Linked DNA regions of Homo sapiens: region 1 is linked to region 2. The links come from fine-mapping of genetic effects on gene expression. A gene starts in region 2. The other region holds a variant in brackets. All regions are shown on one strand. Distances are from middle to middle.

Region 1 (9,316 bases), 52 kb after region 2:
TTATCTTTAGATTAGCTTTGCCTTGGTGACCTGACTCTTTGCTGCCTTCAGCATAATCCAGTTACTCTTGGGAATATCAATTAAGGCCCTCAATCACACTAATTAGAATGTCTTATAAATGTTGCCTTAGGAATTCAGCAGCTTATAAACAGGCAAACTGGGAAAATCTAGAGGTATGTGGGGGTTTTTAAATAGCTGACAGCAATTTGGGAGGGCGTATTGCTTTAGCATAGCTGAGAAGTGGGGCTGAAATTACGGTTCCCTGAATGCAGTGAAATCTCTAGTTGCTCTTTGCTGGCAAGTTTAATGCAGAATTATTAATTACATTTATTAATGACTTGGATGAAGATATAGGTTGCATGCTGATCAAGTCTGTAGATGTCACAAAGCTAGGAAGATAGCAATTATTGTGATAACAGATTCAGGAGCCAAAATGACTTCAAGACAGAATTTAGCAGCCATCTATCTAATACGCGCCTGGCAGTGCTCTATAAAGTACAATTTGAGGGTCATGTTGCTCCCCTACTCAGAAAACTTTGGTGACTCCCTATTTGCTCTTTAAATCCCAAGCCTTTGGCCTGTTATTTAAGGCTTTGCCATATTATGATTCTACCACTGTCTGCTTTCCAACAAAATCTTCTGTAGTTCTTTTTCTAAAACCTTGTGCTTGAGCAAAACTCAGTTCTTTATATACTATTTTCCATTTGTGTTCTATGCTTTCACTACCTTTGAGCATTATTCTCCACTGAAAGTTTCTTTTTCTCACATGTTCCTTCTGTCTCAAGTCTAAATATCCATACCAGTTCAAATGTCACCTCTTGTGTTTCGTCTTCTTTTATTGTCTTGGCTGGAGTGACCTCTTTCCTTTGCTAATCTTCAATAACACTTATCTGTTCCTCTCTATTTTTATCACTTTTTACTTCATATTGCAGGGGGTTTTTTTTTTGGTGCACATTTTAAGTTTCTGTTAGACCCTGCCTAGTGCTAGAATTTCTGTCTGGTAACTCTTTTTATCTCTTAAGTGTCTCTAGATGTGTGTTCTATACATAGTTGATGATACTAAAGTGTCTTGCTGGGGGTTCATCTTTACTGTGGAAAAGTGCCTTTAGAGAAGACCCTACATTTTGCCCATGAGAGGCTTCGTAGCTGTATCATAGCAACTTGGAAACTCAAAGGATAAATCCTTGAGGGGACGGATATTCCATTTTCCATGATGTGCTTATTTCACATTGCTTGCCTGTATCAAAACATATCTCGTCCACACACACACACACACACACACACACACACACACACACACATCTGCTACATAACCACACACACACACAAACTAAAAAATTTGGAAAAGAAGGAGAAAATGCTCAATACATGTTTTATTGAATAAATGAAAGACTGATGGAGAGAAAAAGATTTCCCCAAGGTCATAATATAAGAGCTGGAAGGAAGAGGTGCTGGGAAGAAAACATCATTTAATTTATCAGATGAAACAACAGCTTGTGATATGACGAGCTCACCTGTGATTTGTGTACAACCAGGCTAAAAAAGGAAGCATGAACCAGAGATTTTTGGAGAGGTGTGGTCAAGAGAGGTGACGGGAGTTGGAAACTTGCATAGTCCTTTAGGGTGGCCACACCTCTTGGATTCCTTGTGTAGTTTATATCTTTTGTTATAATTTAATGCTCTTAAAATTGGCCCATTTTAAATGATGTTATATGGTCATCTTATTTATCAAATACCTCTTTGATCTGTTTAAGCTGCTGCATACCTGTGGTTGTGAAACTTGTGGCATAGGCTATTTGAGATAATAATCTTTGTAGTTAGCCTAATGTGGATATAAATAGCATCTTTGTCACTTACTGGAAATATGAGCTGGACAAGTTATCAAGACCTCTGCAAGCATTCTTATATGGCTGTTACCTTCGACACAGAAAGCAGAGTTCTTGAGCATGGAATTTCTGCATCATCTTCAGGTTTCAGTATTTATAACCCACAGAGGTTTTACCAGTGGCCAGATATTTCTTGGGTAGTAGAAAAAGAAATACTTCACAGAGCTGTCAAATCTCCACATCTTCAGCATTAAATATCATGCAACCAAATGTAAGGGTATGGTTCACAGCAGTTGGCTGTTTCAGCTGGTTATTAATAGGAAGGCGAAAGATCATAGAAAGTTGACTCCTCCCTCATCATTTCTGTCTTCCAGTGAGAAGAGGAGAGCACGAACAGCAGGAATTAGATTTATATATTTTCCTTAATATAAATTCACAGTATGGTAGATTGCAGACAAAGTCTGAATCCAGGATTTCTAGACTTTCTATGTGTCTATGTGTCACTAAAAGGGAAAAGTACCTGGATTGTAAAGTATTCCAACTAGAAATAGACCAAGGGAATGCAAAGAGGGGTAAGAAGGTTGAATTTATCTGCCAGAAATGTAAATCCTGGTCAAAAAATCCAGATGAATATTTTTTAAGTAGGCAGTTATAGTTCAGTGAAAAAGAGAGTTGTGGAGCCAGAAAGCTGGAGTTTGATCATAGCTCTACCACTCTCTAGCCAAAGGATCGTGGTGATGTTATTGAAACTTGTCTCTAGCCAAAGGATCTTAGTTATGTTATTTAAACCTGTGTATTAAACTTCTTTATCTGCATGTAATATGGGAATTGAAAAACAAACAACAAAAAAACAGAAACAAAATAAAACCTGTCTTATTGGTTGGTTCTGACAATGAAATTTGTTAATATTGTAAAATTCTTAGAACAGTCCCTAGTCTATAGTCAGCAGGCATGAATGCTAGTTATTATTATTTAAGCCCTTGAAAGTAGTAAGTGATTTCCCTTACCTTTGTATTTATGGTTACAGGATGACACTTCTGTGGTGTGTAGTGAGTCTCTACTTTTATGGAATCCTGCAAAGTGATGCCTCAGGTAAGTGAATGGCTTTTGACAATGTATTAAAATGCAAGTCATGCGTAGGGTAATGAGTCCACTCTTCCTGAAAATGAATTTAAATAAACATAATGTTATTCATGTCCATTGTCTTCTGCGGTAGCAAATAATCATAAAGCAGAATAATAGAATTTTGATGATGGAAAGAACCATTGCTGTCTCTAGTCTTCATGGGATAGAGTACACAGGGGGCAGTGGGCCGCTGTGTTTAAACACAGGTATTTTTCATTACCTTCACACTCAGCCAACTAGAATATTGCTTTTTTCCCTTACCTCAGGTCCTATGGGGGAAAAATGGGAGTGATAATAGCACAATCTGTTTTTCAAATTTGAGCCAGTGGTGGAAAAGTTATCAGTGGTAATAATCCATTGAGATGTTAAATAAAATAATGAGTTTTTGTCATATTGTTTCTATATAGGAAAAAGAAAGGATCTGTCTTTAGACTCATTCTTTCTCTGGATGTTGCTTTATAAGAGGAACCAGCTAAGACCTTTATAGAGTTTGAAAACCAAACTCAGTCATCATGGGCCTGGATCACGTGAAATTAGATATGGAAGAGACTTGCTATTTGAAAGTCCATCTTTTCAGATCTCCTCTTCTTCCCAGAATTATGCCCAGAATCACTCTCTATCTCTGACTATTAATCATTACATTTCAGCCTATGTTTTTGGACTAATCAAATTCTTAGAAAGTTTTTAGTACATAAAACTGAAATTTGTCTCTTTGATTTTAGTATCTAAAACTGAAATTTGTCTCTTTCCAAACATTTACTTGGTTCAACTGTAGGACTGAAAAAAAAAAAAGAAACAAACAAACAAACAAACAAAACAACCAAAACCTAATGCAATGGTTCTCTAATTGTAATGAAGGGAACCTAGAGGTCCTCATTTTATAAAGCTTTTCATGTAAAATTCCCCTGAACACCATAAACCATACTTTACATATCGTTGCTTTAATTCCTTTTCTTTGTGAGAGGGCTTCTGCAATGTTAAGTTAGCTACCATATAACCATGACCTCAGTGTTCTGCAATATATGCCTTCAACTGTTTTTCATATGACATGGATTTGAGCTCTCCTACCATCCTGATCATCTTTTCTGGGTGCGTTTCAGCTTTTCTATGCCACATAAAACATTGTATTAGAAACCAAAAATAGTACTAAAGGAGTGGTATAAGTAGGACAGAGTACAGCTCAGTGCTGAAACTAGCAGTAACTTCTAGCCTTGTTGGCCCTTTGGGGCTTCACAGAGGAATGGCTGTAGATAACCGGAGATGTTATTCGGCTGGGATGCGCTAGGAGACAGCTCCTTGGCTGTTTAGTCCAGCATCTGTCCTGCTTGGTTAGGTGTCGCGTTTGATAGGTGAGTTTCTTGATGTCCTGATTTTCAAATATGTTAAATATAATTCTTGATTTTAGTTTGTTCTTATTTGATTTAGTTCTATGTTTGAATGCTATCTGCTCACAGAGGCTTCCTTGACCATCTTAACTAAAAATCCCTACCAGTCACTCTCTCTCCCTCCATCCTGTTTTAGTTTTCTTTGTAACACTCACATTCCCTGATATTATATTAGCCTTCTTTCTCTTCTCTCCTCCTCCTCCCTCTTCCTCTTCTCTTGTTTCCTCCTCCTTTTCCTTCCTTTTTTTCTTCCTGAACTCCCTGTCCTTCCTCCTTTTCTGCCTCCCTTCTTTCCTTTCTCTCCATCTCTTTTTCTTCCTCCTTCCCTCCCTCTGTCTTGGATTTTAAGCTGCCTGAGGGCAGGAACTTGTTCAGGAACTTTTGTTTGTTATCCAAACACTCAGAATAATACTGACACATAGACACATAGCAGATGCTCAATACATAGGTGTTAAATGGTTGAATACATGTCCCTTTACATCCTTTCCCCTGCCCCCAGACTGTCCAGTTTTATAATGGAACGTGTTTGGGTTCATGCCAGTAATTCATCATGTGGTTTTATGTCCTCCCTCATCCTGAAGGAAGAGGGACAGGTGACTGTGTTACCATTGCTGAAGGATCATGGAGGTTCCAGAAGCTAATGAGTGCTGGTGCCTTCCCAGCAGTCCTGACCATGTTACTTTTCTGAATGACCTTTACTGTAATCCATCCAAGGAGTCCCCAGCCCCCACCTCAAGTGCTGTTGGTAAGAGAGCTTTCTATCCAGGAACTGTGACTCATAATTCTGCCAGGGGAAGCTAACTTCTTGAATAAGATAAGTTCTCATACCAGCCACATTGCGTCACCGTGGGAGCAGGAAACATGTTGTAATCCCCTCAGCCCATCTGGCACGTACTCATTTGCCTTCCTTATGAAGAGGTGTATTGTGTCTGACAGTGATGCCACTTCCTAGTTGGAGGGAGAGGAACAAAAAGGACATGTTGTTGACAAAAACGAAAAGAGCAACTGGCTCTGGGCTAGTGGGGGAAGAAAGAAATCATTGCGCATCTTGAGGGATCAACCAACCTCTCTGCACATGAAAGTATTGCCTTTTACAAGGCATCTGTGGATGCTGACAGATTTGTTGGTCTTTCATGAGGCTCTCCCTGTGCTCAGGTTCCCATCTCAACGGAAACACAGGTTGATGTGAGGAACAAAGCAGAAATGTT[C/G]TGAAAACCCTAAAGCAATCTACATGCGTATCATATTAGTAAGACATTTATTTTGTTCTGAGTCCTTCCATGTGGGCCTTTTAAGAGAATCCTCAAATATAAAAAAGAAACCATAAAAGCATAAGAACTTAGCGCCATGCAATGTGTTTTCACACGCAGTGAACTGGCCGTGAAGTCATACGATTCTGACTTCCGATCATGATTTTTCTGGTAGCAGTACTGTGATCCCCTTATCCCCTCAGGAATGGGGGAGCAACATTTTCATCTTAGGTGATGATAAAAGCAAATGATTTTTTAAGAAAGCTTTATTTCCCTTTAAGGAATTAAAGCTTGGATAATTATAATAGCGATTCTATAATTATAATGTGCTAGTTATAGTAATAATAATAAAGCTCCCTTTGCTTAAAAAAGCAGTTTGCATTGTACATATTCAATGTCAGTCTCACACCCAAACCATGGGGTAGTCAGAGCTGTTGTAACTACCTTTGTTGGGTAAGACAAGTTAGGATCAAAGTATTTAATTGTATTACTCGAAGTCACACAGCTATACTTAGCATGCTTGTGACTTCAACGAGTTTCTGGATTCCTGACATCCATATTATTTTTACGAAATATGCTCCAGTTGGGGTCTATTAGAATATAAATTACTAAGAAAAAAGATTAAGATCTAAGGGATCACAGGTAATCATTTTGCAAACTGTTGAAGAACCACTCTGTGATAGGTTTCTATGCTTTGTAGGTAAGGTATATCCTTACACGCTTATCCTGCCCCCTCACAGCACTGAAACATTTTCTTCAGGAGGAAAATGATTGTAATACAAAATTCAAACCCAATATTCCTTTTTTTGCTTATTATAGTATTAAATATTTTCACTAATAAACTCGAAGAAGTTCTGTTTGTAAGACTTCGAAATGGAAACTTCAGCTCAATACACGTCTCTTTTGCTGTGCCTCATTGGCAGTGTGTCAGGAAGCTGAACTGTTAAAAGCTGCCTTTGGAGTAGACATAAATTTTGGAACCTGTGATCCCAAGTTGAGGAGGTAATAAAAATAGCACCATATAGAATATAGTGAATTTAAAAAATATTACCATATCAAAATTATTTGCTGGACAAATCACATGAAAAAGAGAGTACACTGCCACCCCAAAATGCAGGCACACACACGGATCTTTGAGAAAGATTTTATTTCAAAGTCAACAGTTGACTGTGTGCCAGGTGCAGGGCTGGATTTCACACACATTATCAGGAACTTCGCAGGAACCATTGTACAGGGGTAGGGGCTGGAGACTCTTCTACCTGTTTGATAGTTTAGGAAATGAAGATCCAGGGAGGTGGCCCAAGTGCTCATGATAGCCTGGCTTGCCTGATAGAGCCAGGCTGCCTTGACTCCAGAAACAGTGCTCTTTTTTATTTTTCCATACTATAATTGCCTTTCTTTAGGACTGTGCTCTGCTACTAGAAGTAAGATCCTCTGATTCCTTTTCCATTATATTTTACAAAATTGGTAGAGAATGGAAATCATCTATCCAATGATTGGGAGTGAATTATACAATGCAAAATAAATAAATAGTAAAAAACACTGTGGTTTCCTAGTAATTGAGAGATTCAAGTTCTGTTTTACTCTGTGACTTGTTTGATGACAGTAAAGGGGTCATTTCATCACTTTTTGTCATTGCATCCTTATTTATAAACCAAGCCAACCAACCAAACAATTAACAAACAATAGCAGCAGATCCCAGTCAATTCCAGTTTCTTGATTTTTATGAAGGAACACTATGCATCATGGACACACACAGGGTATACTCCTATTAGCTACTTAAATTCTTTCTAATAACAATGTTAACAATGATTTCACTTTATTCTAAAGATCATGCGTTTGACCATTTTAGATTGTAGAATCCAGGGTTAGTAAGAGGAATTTCTTATTTTAAGAGGAATACAGTAAAGTTTGAGAGAAGGAAGAGGAAATAATTACCAAATAGAATTCCGTGAGAGCAGAGAAAGTTACCAATCCTATCAGGAGATATTGGGGAAGACTTAATCATTGCTCCTTCCTAGGAAGAAACGCATCTCTTATTTGGGAATGAAATAGTTCAGGGCAACTCAAAAGATAGTGCAAAGGCATTTAGAAGCCAAGCTGGAAAGGTAGGTTGGGAACAAATTATGCAGGACGGGAATTACTTCAGGTAAAGAGAATGTCCACATTTAATGTATTTTGGTTATAGTTGGCTAGGTTTCTTTTCCTTTTTTTAAATTCTGTCGTATTTTTGCAAGGACATACACTATTATTAATTCTATGTGATGGTTCTTTCACCTTTTGGTAAGAATTCAGTTTGTTACCAGCCCCAGTGGCCTCATTTTATTTGAATATCCTTGCTTTAATAACTCCGTGCTCAGATATACTTGTGACATTGTGTCCTGTCCCAGTTGCCCATGGCTGGTCATCCTGAACACTCTTCATTTCTATGTAATTTAGTCCAAACATTTGGAAAATGTATGAAGAATACTGTTTCATTTTATTCTTAGTCCTAAAGGTCATTGGAATTACAGAATTTCACCCTGTTGTCATTTAAATGATGCCTCTCGGAAGCAGATCTCTTCACTTTTTTTTTTTTCTTTAGCTGTGTTTATAGCTTGAAGCACACTTATATTTTAGTTACTTATATTTCCCAAGGGTGGATTTACTGTAGCCTGATTGAAAAGAAATTTAAGTACCACATAATTGGCTTGATACTGAGTTTGCAAATACACAGCTTCTTGTATCACAGTGATAATTCTAAGTTTAGAAAAATGACCTGGTTCTTTTTCACATGGCTGTGTTAGTTAAAGGAAACCAGTATTTTTGTAGGAACTCCTGCATACCGTTGTAGGAAAAAATGTTTGTTTTACAAGAATTTATTCTACCCTTTGAATTACCTTTGTTTTTGCTATCCTTTCCCTCACTCCCCCAACCCTGAATATTCATTTCTACCATATTTTAGGGACCAGATTGCCACCTTAGCAGTGACTCACTACCAAGACCAGTTTCTACCCACTTTTCTTTCACCACTTAAAAAGTTTCTTTTCTGTTTAACTGATTAACTTTTTAGAAAATAAAATATATACCCACCCAGGATAACAACACAATGATTGCTTTATTTTTAAATCCACTGAGTGCTGCCATCTCTCATTTATTTTTGAGGAACAGTGAGAAAATGGATACATTTAACAAATAATTTGGGAACCTCAGTCACCTTCAAGTTACCTGCTATCCAAACCTATAAAAGCTGATGTACAAAATTTTCTGGCTTTGCCTTTGCGTGTTTTAGAGATAGTGGGAATAATGAAAATGCAAGATGACTACGACAATGAGAGAAAATAAATAAAATAATCACTTCCTCAGCAACCTAGACCATATTCTGTTGTGTTTTATGACATTCATTTCTCCTTCTACCATAGGAACCAAAATGCTTGGTATAGCTATACATTACTGGGAAATAAATAGCACTTTTCTGCAGTGTTTGTAGGGTCTGAAATAGTTTAAGGCTCTTATCCATCAGCCCATTTTTTTTTACTTCTGAGATACTTTCATATTTATTTATTTATTTATTTATTTATTTTTTGAGACGGAGCTTCGCTCTTGTTGCCAGGCTGGAGTGCAATGGTGCGATCTCAGCTCACCTCAACCTCCACCTCCCAAGTTCAAGTGATTCTCCTGCCTCAGCCTCCCTAGTAGCTGGGATTACAGGCATTTGCCACCATGCCCAACTAATTCTGTATTTTTTTGTAGA
Region 2 (9,398 bases):
CTTTCTTTACTCTGTACCCAGCCAAATATATACACATATATATACGTGTATATATATATACGTATATATATGTATATATATTAAACATATATACGTATATATATAGACACACACACACACACACACATATATATATATATAATTTGTTGTTTTAGTTTTTGTCTTCCAATGATTCTGATCTCCCAAAAAAATGTAAATCAAAGGAAGAGGGCGATATATAAGTCACTTAATATCTTTGTATCAAAGTTTAACCATGAGAGTTTTGGACTGAATTGTAACTCAACAAATGTTTATTCAATGAGTACTACGTGCAAAATATTGTCTGTTTGCCAGGGAAACATTATATTACCCTCCCGGAGTTAGCATTCTAGTGAAAACAGCATTCAATAAGTAAATTAATTAAAATGTTACGTAATGTATTATTTGACTTGGTTGTCAGGAAAAGCTTTGCTGGGAAGGTTATAGTGGAGCAGGGACATTAATGAAGATGTGAGTAAGAGGAGAGAACAAGCAACAGGGGAACAGCGGTCCAGCAAGGGGGAACAGCAGGTGCAAACACCCTAGTATGGGAACATGTTAGTGTGTTTGGTCGACAGCAAGGAGCATGCTATGGGAGATTGAAAGAAGCAACTCAGTGCTGGATCATGTAGGGCCACACAAGGACTTTTAGGCCATAAATGACTATGGAAATTTATCTGATCATGATAAGAAATCACTATTTGAAAGCAGAGAATGACATATTTCTTGTAAAAGAATAATGAATATTTATATTGCATTTCTACATGCCAATCCCCATGCCAAGTGTTTTACTTATATAATCTCATTTAATTTAAAAACAGCACTATAATGTATATTATTGTCATTGTTATTCATATTTTTCAGAGAATAAAACTGTGAAAAAAAGAAATTAAGTAACTTGACCACATTATGTAAACTTGATCCCAGGTAGTCGGGCTTCAGATTCCTTGACCTCAATCACTAGCCTGTATTTATTCTATTTTCATTTATAAGGGTCTCTGAAGTAAGGGCAATAGACTCTTTGGGTAAGAGTTTAAGCAGGGACACCAGTGAGGGGAGAGATGGCAATGACTTGAACCATGGTGGTTGTGATGGAGAAGAGGAATAGCGTGGTTGGATTTGAGATGTGTTTTGAATGTAGAGGAAGCAGAAGGTTTGTGGATATAATGTGTACAGGCAATGAGAGAGAGTGATAACTCCAACTTTTTGACCTGAGCAACTGGGTAAAAGACAGTGTTGCTTACAAAGCTCTGGTTTGGTGTGGGGCAGAAATAAAGTTTGAATTTGAACATGTAAAGTTTGAGATGTATTTAAAACATCCAAGAAGGAGATATGAAGGAGGTAATATGGTATACAAAGTCTGGTTTGGGCTTTAGATTTAGATTTGCAAGTTATTATCATATTGATATTTTAGAAGGCCATGTGTCTGTCTGAGTTCCCCTAGGTAGAGAATATAACCACTTCAAGGATTGAGCTCTAGGACACTGGAACCTTCAGAGATCATGAAGAGGTAGAGGATTCAATAAGAATCTGATAAGGAACAGCAGATGAAATACATGAAAAACAAAGAGTCAAGTACGAGAGAGTGTGAAAGAGCAACAGATTATCTGTGTCTAATGCTGCTGATACATGTACAATGAAGACAGAGAATTGATCACCACATTTGGCAAAGTGAAGATCATTACAGATGCTGACTGTGGAGTGGTAGAGATAAATGTCTGAATGGATTGGGTTCAAGAGACTAGCAAACTCCTGATGCGTCTTACAGCTACAGCAAGATAATTAAAGATAACCTAAAAAAAAGGTGGAGGGTAAAAGCTGGGAGAAGAAGAGAATAATAATACCTTTCCAAATACATCAATCAATTGCAAAATATTTTATTGTGCATCTTCTATACATCCAGCAGTATTAGTCACTGACATCAATGAATTTGTAGCTTCATTTATTCATTTAGGCAACTATTATTCATCAAATGTTTAGTATGTGATGGATATTTAATGGGTATAGCTTTAAAATATTTTTCTCAATTGTTAGCATAACATTTTTTCATTTTTAATTATTACGGGTACATAATAGGTGTATATATGTATGGGTGACATGTGATGTTTTGATACATGCATACAATGTGTAATAATCACATCAGGGTAATGACAACAGGGTGTCATCACCTTGACCATTTGTCACTTCTTTGAGGAACATTCCAATTTCACTCTTACTTATTTTAAAATGCATAATTAATTATTGTTGACTGTAGTCACTCTGTTGTGCTATCAAGTGCTGGGTCTTATACATTCCAGCTAATTATATTTTTGCAACCGTTAACCATCCTCCCTTCCCCACAACTCCCTTGCCTCTGCTACTCTTCCCAGCCTCTGGTAACCATCATTCTACTCTCATATCTCAGTTCCTTTGTTTAATTTTTAGCTCCCACGTGTGAGTGAGAATTTGCAAAATTTGTCTTTCTGTGCTTGGTTTATTTCACTTAAATGTAAAAGGAAAAAGAGATGTTTCTATTTCTGTAATCCTAACATATCAACATTTTTTCACATTCCTTTCAATTGGTGTTCATCTCTCCACAACTTTTACTCAACCTTATTTTGTAAGCCTTTTTCTTTGTAGACATATTTCCATAATATGATAGTTATGATGCAAATATTTTATTCTGTGCGTAGACAGCGTTGGTTAACTAATCATTTTCATTTCCAACCATTTATATTGTGTTCAAACTACAATATACTATGAATATTTGTCTATATGATTATTCATCTTAATGTTATCTTCCTTAAGCTATGAGTAGCCCTTCAATGTCCGGGAATATACATCTGGTTCAATTCTGAATTACTAGCATCTGTTTGGCTTCTAGGTAGTACATGAGACTGAGTAGCGGCTGAGAGCATGAACGTCGAGTGTCTCTAGTCTCATTTTGTATTCTCCACTTGTAGGCCTGTAGCCTTGGTCAAGTTATTTAAATTCCCTTTATCTCCTTTATGAACTGGAGATAATAATAGCACCCTCCAGGTTGTATTGAGGGTTACCTGAATTAATATACACAAAGTCCTTATGATTGCACCTTTTTATTTTGTAAGCACTGTGTAAATGCTTCAGTGTACTATATATATATAAAAGTCTGTGCCCAGAATATATTTAAGGAATGAATAATAAATCAGAAAATGTTTTATTGTTGCTTCATACAGGTAACATTTTAAATTCTTTTGGATTATTTTCTCTTTGGTTCAGTGACAATGTTGTGAGCAGGTGCTGGGTCCCAGGTATCCTGAGATAAATAAAAATTTTGAGCAATTAATTTTCATAAGTGATGTCAAGAAGTAAAGTATCATGAACATTTCTATGGCTCCAATTACACTGATATTTCACCTTAGGAACTGAAGCTCCGCCAGGGCAGGGGCAGCCTCTGAGTTTCGTACTGCTGTGCACCTTTAGCAGCACGGGCACCTGCTGGTTTCATTTCCTTCCCACTCACCTGGGCCCTTTTCTTATTTCACATCTTTTTTCTCCTTTTCCTTAAATGCTTTCTCTGAATCTTGATTCTTGAAAATAAATTAGTAGGATTCAGTTAGGTAGGAGGAGGAGAAAAGAAGATGTGATGAGCAAGAAGATGTGCGAAGACTCGTCAGTCTGGTAGGTGGCTTTGGTTAGGGGGTTTCAGAAATGGGGACAGGTCATGAAGGGCCTTGCCAGTCAGGAAAAATCATGAGGCACTAGCAGTAGGAACACAGCAGAAGGTGCCTGAACAAGAGAGATGACTTAATGAAAGCCTTTATAACGCTTCCCGGGATATATTACAGACTACCATCTACAGTGGCAGAGGGCAGCTGAAGGAAGGCTCTTGCAAAAACTTGGGGAAATGGAAATGAATGAAGGCAAATATTTGTTTTGAGATTATTTCCTTCTATGTAACCTATTAGTTCTTTTATTCGTTCCCCATACATGTATTGAGTGCCTACTTTGTGCCAGGCACTGTGCTAGGCAATGGGTATATTACCAGTGGACAATACAGATTTAGTCTTGCTGTCATGTCCTGTTGCTTGCTCATATGAATGTCAGTTCAAGACAGCAAGAGCTCAGGACTGCGGAGATCGCATCTACATCCTGCCGCGCTCTGTGCCGGCACAGGGTGGTTGCGAAAATCGTGCAGTCTGAATTGATTCAAGGCCTTGCAGCATGATTGCTAAATACGTCGAGACAGGAAGAAAGGGCAGGGTGGCACCGATCTCAACTGCGAGAGCACGATCTTGCAATGAGCGCATGTGTGCGCCTCGGTGTGTAGTGAGGGGCGTAGCTTCCCACAGCGCCTGGCAGCGTGCCGAGCTGCGCTGCAGGACTAACCCTCTCCTTTCCCCGCGCGCTCAAGCCCGCACAGGCGGTGGCAGGGAGCCGAAGGGGCCGAGCGCAGCCTTGCATCCGTCCGCAGGCGGGCCCGGCGCCGCGCCTCCTGGCGGCGGGCGGGACCGTCCAGGACGCCGCCCCGCGGCCGCAGCTCCTGGAAGCCCAGAGCGCCGGTGGATCGCGAGCCAAGGCGGCGGGTGGAGCCTGAGCCGTGAGGCCGTGGCCAATCGCGCCGCTCCGGGGGAGGAGCCCCAAAGGGGGAAAAGAAAGTGCGGCGGAAAGTAAGAGGCTCACTGGGGAAGACTGCCGGGATCCAGGTCTCCGGGGTCCGCTTTGGCCAGAGGCGCGGAAGGAAGCAGTGCCCGGCGACACTGCACCCATCCCGGCTGCTTTTGCTGCGCCCTCTCAGCTTCCCAAGAAAGGTGAGTCTCGCGCCGCCGTGAGGGCTCAGAAGTCACCAAGCCGCAGAATCTCAGGGTAGACGGATTCTTAGAGATCCTATCGTTAAACCCTCCTACTTTACAGAAGAGGAAACTGAGGCACAGAACGAGGCAGCGGCTGGGATAGGTCATACTGCTAGTTAGGACTGGAGCCCGGATTCGAACCCAAACGTTCAGAGACCCATCTTTGCTTTGCAGGGATTTAAGTAACGCGGTTGTGGGACGTCTGCTCGTTGCCGCCCCCATCCTCAGCCCTTTGAGGGGTCTACCCTTGTTTTCCTCCTCACCGCCCCCTCCCCGCTACCACCCCCCGCCCCCATCTCCTCCTTGGTTTCTCCAGACCGCTGCTGGAAGCGCCGAGGACAGAAGGAAGCGGTGTGTCCCAGCACGCCCACTCGGTATCACGTCGCTCTCAGCGCAGAGCTGTGACAGCCTGGGAAAATGCTGCTTGCAGCCTCACTCCCTCTTCCCCTGACCTGCTTTCTCAGAAAGATGCCCCTTCAGAGGGTGTCGGACCAGCTTCTGGAGGAGCGCGGGGAGAGAGGAGCGAGGCCCGGGCGCCAGTGACCTCCTATGGTACTGTTTCTTCCCAGCCCCGGAGGAAGCGGAGCTAGTGGCCCTGTGGGGCACAGGGTGCCCCTCACTTGGGAAGAGCTGACTTCATGGAACCATAGAGCCCCTTCCCTCTTCTAAATACTGAGAGGGAGCAAGGAAGCTGAGTTAAAGAGAAAATCACAAACATAAAAGCAAACTTCGGCTGTTTCCTTTAAGAGCTAGCCCACAGCCTGTCTTCCCTCCACCTTCTGGTTGTGAAATTGTGAACCAGGGCGCCACGCGAAGCATTCTGCTGCTCTGCTGTACAGATCCCTGGTTTAGCTACTGGATGAGAAAGAGGACTTGAGTTTTGACTCCAGCTCTTCCATGTATTAGCAGTGTGAACTTGGGCAAGTTATCTCACCTTTCCGATACTGGGTTTTTCTTTTCTTTCTTTCTTCCTTTTTTTTTTTTCCAGCCAAAAAATGGAGATTTATAATGGTCACAATGAGCCCTTTGGGTAGTTGGAAGGATGAAATGGGATCATTCAAGTAGCATGTTTAGCACAGTGCCTGGCCTGGCATCTGGTTGGTTCAAAACCAATGGCAACTATTGTAAATATTGTTACATAGTAACCTTGCAGACAGTGGGTTTTCAGAAAGGTGATTTCATACCATCTTACAGAGGCATTTTAAAAAAATCTGTAAATGTGGTGTCTTTCTTCTTTTGAATTTGAGCAACTCTTTTATAATAAGAATTTTCTGAATGTTGTCCATATGTGATGTGGATCATGGATGCTTAGCTCGAAATGTAAAATTGATGTTTCTCGGTGATATGAATTTCCTACTAGTTTTTAGGTCAAACCTCAGGCCTGTGAACTGCCCTGATCTGAGACATCCTTTATTGACAAAGAGGGTCTTGAAATGGGTGAGAGGCAGAAAGACAAGAAGACAAAGTTGGAAGTTGCAGCTGTGTTACAGATTATTCTAAGCCTTCTATCCTTGCTCTCTTAGGTCAGTCGAGCAACCTTACATTTTTCATCTAGTATCAGAAAACAAACAAAATTCTCATATATTTCTTTTGGATTGTACAGAGATGCTGCTAAATGCAAACCTTTCTGGACACAAACTTGCCTTATTTAAACACGAACACACAGACATTCACATGCCCACACTAGTCTTCCTGTATTATTGGTATTTTAAAGTTAAATGGATTCCCTCCCACACCCTTAACCCTTCTCATGACAATTGATTTTATTCTGATGAACTTCATGCAATAATTTACTACTATCTACTGGCTTTGCCATGCGTCCTTAAATTGAGTGTCCAGCATTTGTAGTTGGCTGCCTCCTTCACAGGCCATAGCATTTGTATGCAGTATTGGTAAGTGCTTGAGAACAGAGTGTGATACATCTTGATGGAAGATAAGAGCCCAGTGGTGCCCACTTAAGTACCTCCCGCACCAAGCATTAGTAAAGGATGGGATCACCTGCTTCTATCAGCTTGTTCCATGTACATGCATTGTGGTGAGCTGGCTGGGATATGACTGAATGTGTGCCTGAGAGACAGGGGCCTTGTGGGGGAAAAGGAAAATGTTCAAAATAAGGTCAGATCATGAGGATGGAAGGGAGATTAAAAGCTAATTCCTTTGGTTCTGATTCTTCAAAGAAAGGTTGGTCAATTATACCCATATCTTCATACAGATTATTACTTGTTACCAAAACCATATATATGTATAGAACTTTAAAATTTCCAAAGTGCATTCTGTATATATGATACTCCTTGTTACTCACAATAGCCCTGGGAGGACATGGCAAGAATATTAATAGAGGAAGGAGCCCAGGTTTTGTGGTCAGACCTACTTGATTTCAAATTCCAGCTCTCATGCCTGAGTAGTTGGGTGATATTGAGCAGTTTATTTAATCATTTGAAGTTTCTGTTTTATCCAGTTCTAAAATGGAAAAAAAAAATGCTTACTTTAAAAATCTGTATAACGAATAAATTCAATAGAATAATGTCAAGTACATGTAGTGAATAGGTGCTCATTAAATGATATCTCTTCTTAGCTAGTCTCAATTTATTTAGAACATAACTGGAATGAGACTCAGAGAAATGAAAAGTTGCTAGAGGTCATGTGTTAGTATGTTTCAACTCTGGGAATACAGTTCACACCTTTTCATGTCTAGTTTAGGGCATTTCCCATCACACTCTGTTTCCTCGCCAATGAGATATTTAACAATTTACTTCAGTTATAAAGTTGACCTTATTTGTCTGGTTATTTCAGGATATCCTTTTTGTTGAAAAGCAGGTATTTTCTTGCAAAGAGAACAATCCTTAAGCACAGTTCTGTAGAGTTTAGTGGAGCCAACTGTCATAAGAGGGTATTTAAAGCAATGGTCTCTAAGACAACCTTCCTACTCTCCTGTGTTGGATGTAATACACCTTTGATTCCTAAGAGAAAGGGTACTAACTAAGAAGACATAAAGTACAGAATTATATCACTCTTTTCTTCCTGTTGTGAGTGGTTTCTTCCCTCTGCCATCCTCATGCTAGTTCAAAGGCTGGGAAGAAGATTGAACAACAAATGTTATGAGTGTCCATGGCATTATTCAACTTTTTTTTTTGACAATTTTGTGGGTACTGAGTAGAGTAGACAGAATAATGTGCAAAGGTGGCATTTGCAGAAAGAGACCACTGCTTCCTGGTGGTGCTGATTACTTGTCTGGAGTTTCACTCCTCCTTGTGGAAAGTGATGGCTGGAGGCTCATGTTGGAAGATGAAGGGATCTGTTTCTGGCCCAGGCAGTGGGGCTGTTCATCTGCTGAGACTTCTCATAGGCCATTAGATTTCTCTTCTTTGTAGCAAGCACACAGGCTTGCAAACGCAGATGTAGAAGGAACATTTTGCTCCTTGCTTTTGGCATTTTGGAGCATATGTTTGCTCCTATAGGTAAGCAGTTAGCATCATCTTACCTGGCACGGTTAGGAAAGCAGAATGTGGCTTGAGGAAATCAGAGGACGTAGAAAAAAACAAAGATTATCTCCAGCCTATACACAGCTTCATTTGTTGCTCAACTTCATCAGGCTTTTGCTGGTGACACAGATGTAGGATCTGGTGAGTCACTGTTGCCTTGCCCATGAAATATTAAAGAGAGCCACCTACTGTGCTCTTTGCCCATTTTGGAAATTGTTCTGCATGGAAAAAAAAGAAGAAGAAAAGAAAAAAGAAACACCAAAGAATAGGAAGGTTACAGAACATTTGGTAAGTGATATTTCGGTGGATAAATTCAGGTTAGCCATTCATTTGCTGCCTTTTTTTTTTTTTTAAATGATAATGCATGGTTTACACTGATAGGGTTGTTAGGAGACATCCCTTTGGTCTGACTTTATTCTAACTCTCTGTAGCAGCTGTGGTAGTGTGGATTTTGAGAGTCTGGCTGAAATCTGAGGCAAGTTATTCTATAGAGATGATCTTTTGGCTCTGCAGCTAGGAAATAGGGACACTGATGCCTGCTTAGAAGCTTAAGTCCCTATTTATTTCAACATCTTATTCATAGAAAACATTTAATAAACACTGATTCTGTCCTCTGCTAACAACTCCTTCAATGTATTAGTCTGTTAAATTACGATCATCATAATTTAACAGGTACTCTTTACTTGTCTCCATCATTATTTGTGCTGAGTATCTTAAATATATCATCTCATTCAATCCTCACAATAATCCTGTATATTTTTTTAGGAAACCGAGGCTCATAGAGTTACGTAGCATGGCCTATGTATTAGTCTGTGTTCATGCTGCTGATAAAGACAGACCCAAGACTGGGCAGTTTGCAAAAGAAAGAGGTTCATTGGACTTATAGTTCCACATGGCTGGGGAGGCCTGACAATCATGGCGGAAGTCAAGGAGGAGCAAGTCACATCTTACGTGGATGGCAGCAGGCCAAAAAAGAGAACTTGTGCAGAGAAACTCTCATTTTGAAAACTATCTGATCTTGTGAGACCCATTCACTATCACGAGAATAGCATGGGACAGACCTACCCCACATGATTCAATCATCTCC

The links.
Region 1: its variant is fine-mapped to the expression of IL1RAP in whole blood (INTERVAL, PIP 0.97).

The regions. Positions count from the first base shown.
Region 1 is chr3:190,561,436-190,570,751 of GRCh38, forward strand. IL1RAP (interleukin 1 receptor accessory protein) reads left to right here. Exons shown (of 12, transcript NM_002182.4): 3 at 2,854-2,918. The coding sequence starts at 2,855. Among named protein-coding and RNA genes, the nearest start is that of IL1RAP, 52 kb to the left of the region's middle. RefSeq lists an enhancer at 4,422-5,621. The variant C/G (reference allele first, on the strand shown) is at 5,545.
Region 2 is chr3:190,509,433-190,518,830 of GRCh38, forward strand. It overlaps IL1RAP (interleukin 1 receptor accessory protein), which reads left to right and starts at 4,653. Exons shown (of 12, transcript NM_002182.4): 1 at 4,653-4,787. RefSeq lists enhancers at 4,000-4,089, 4,842-5,343, 5,344-5,843 and a silencer at 4,240-4,589.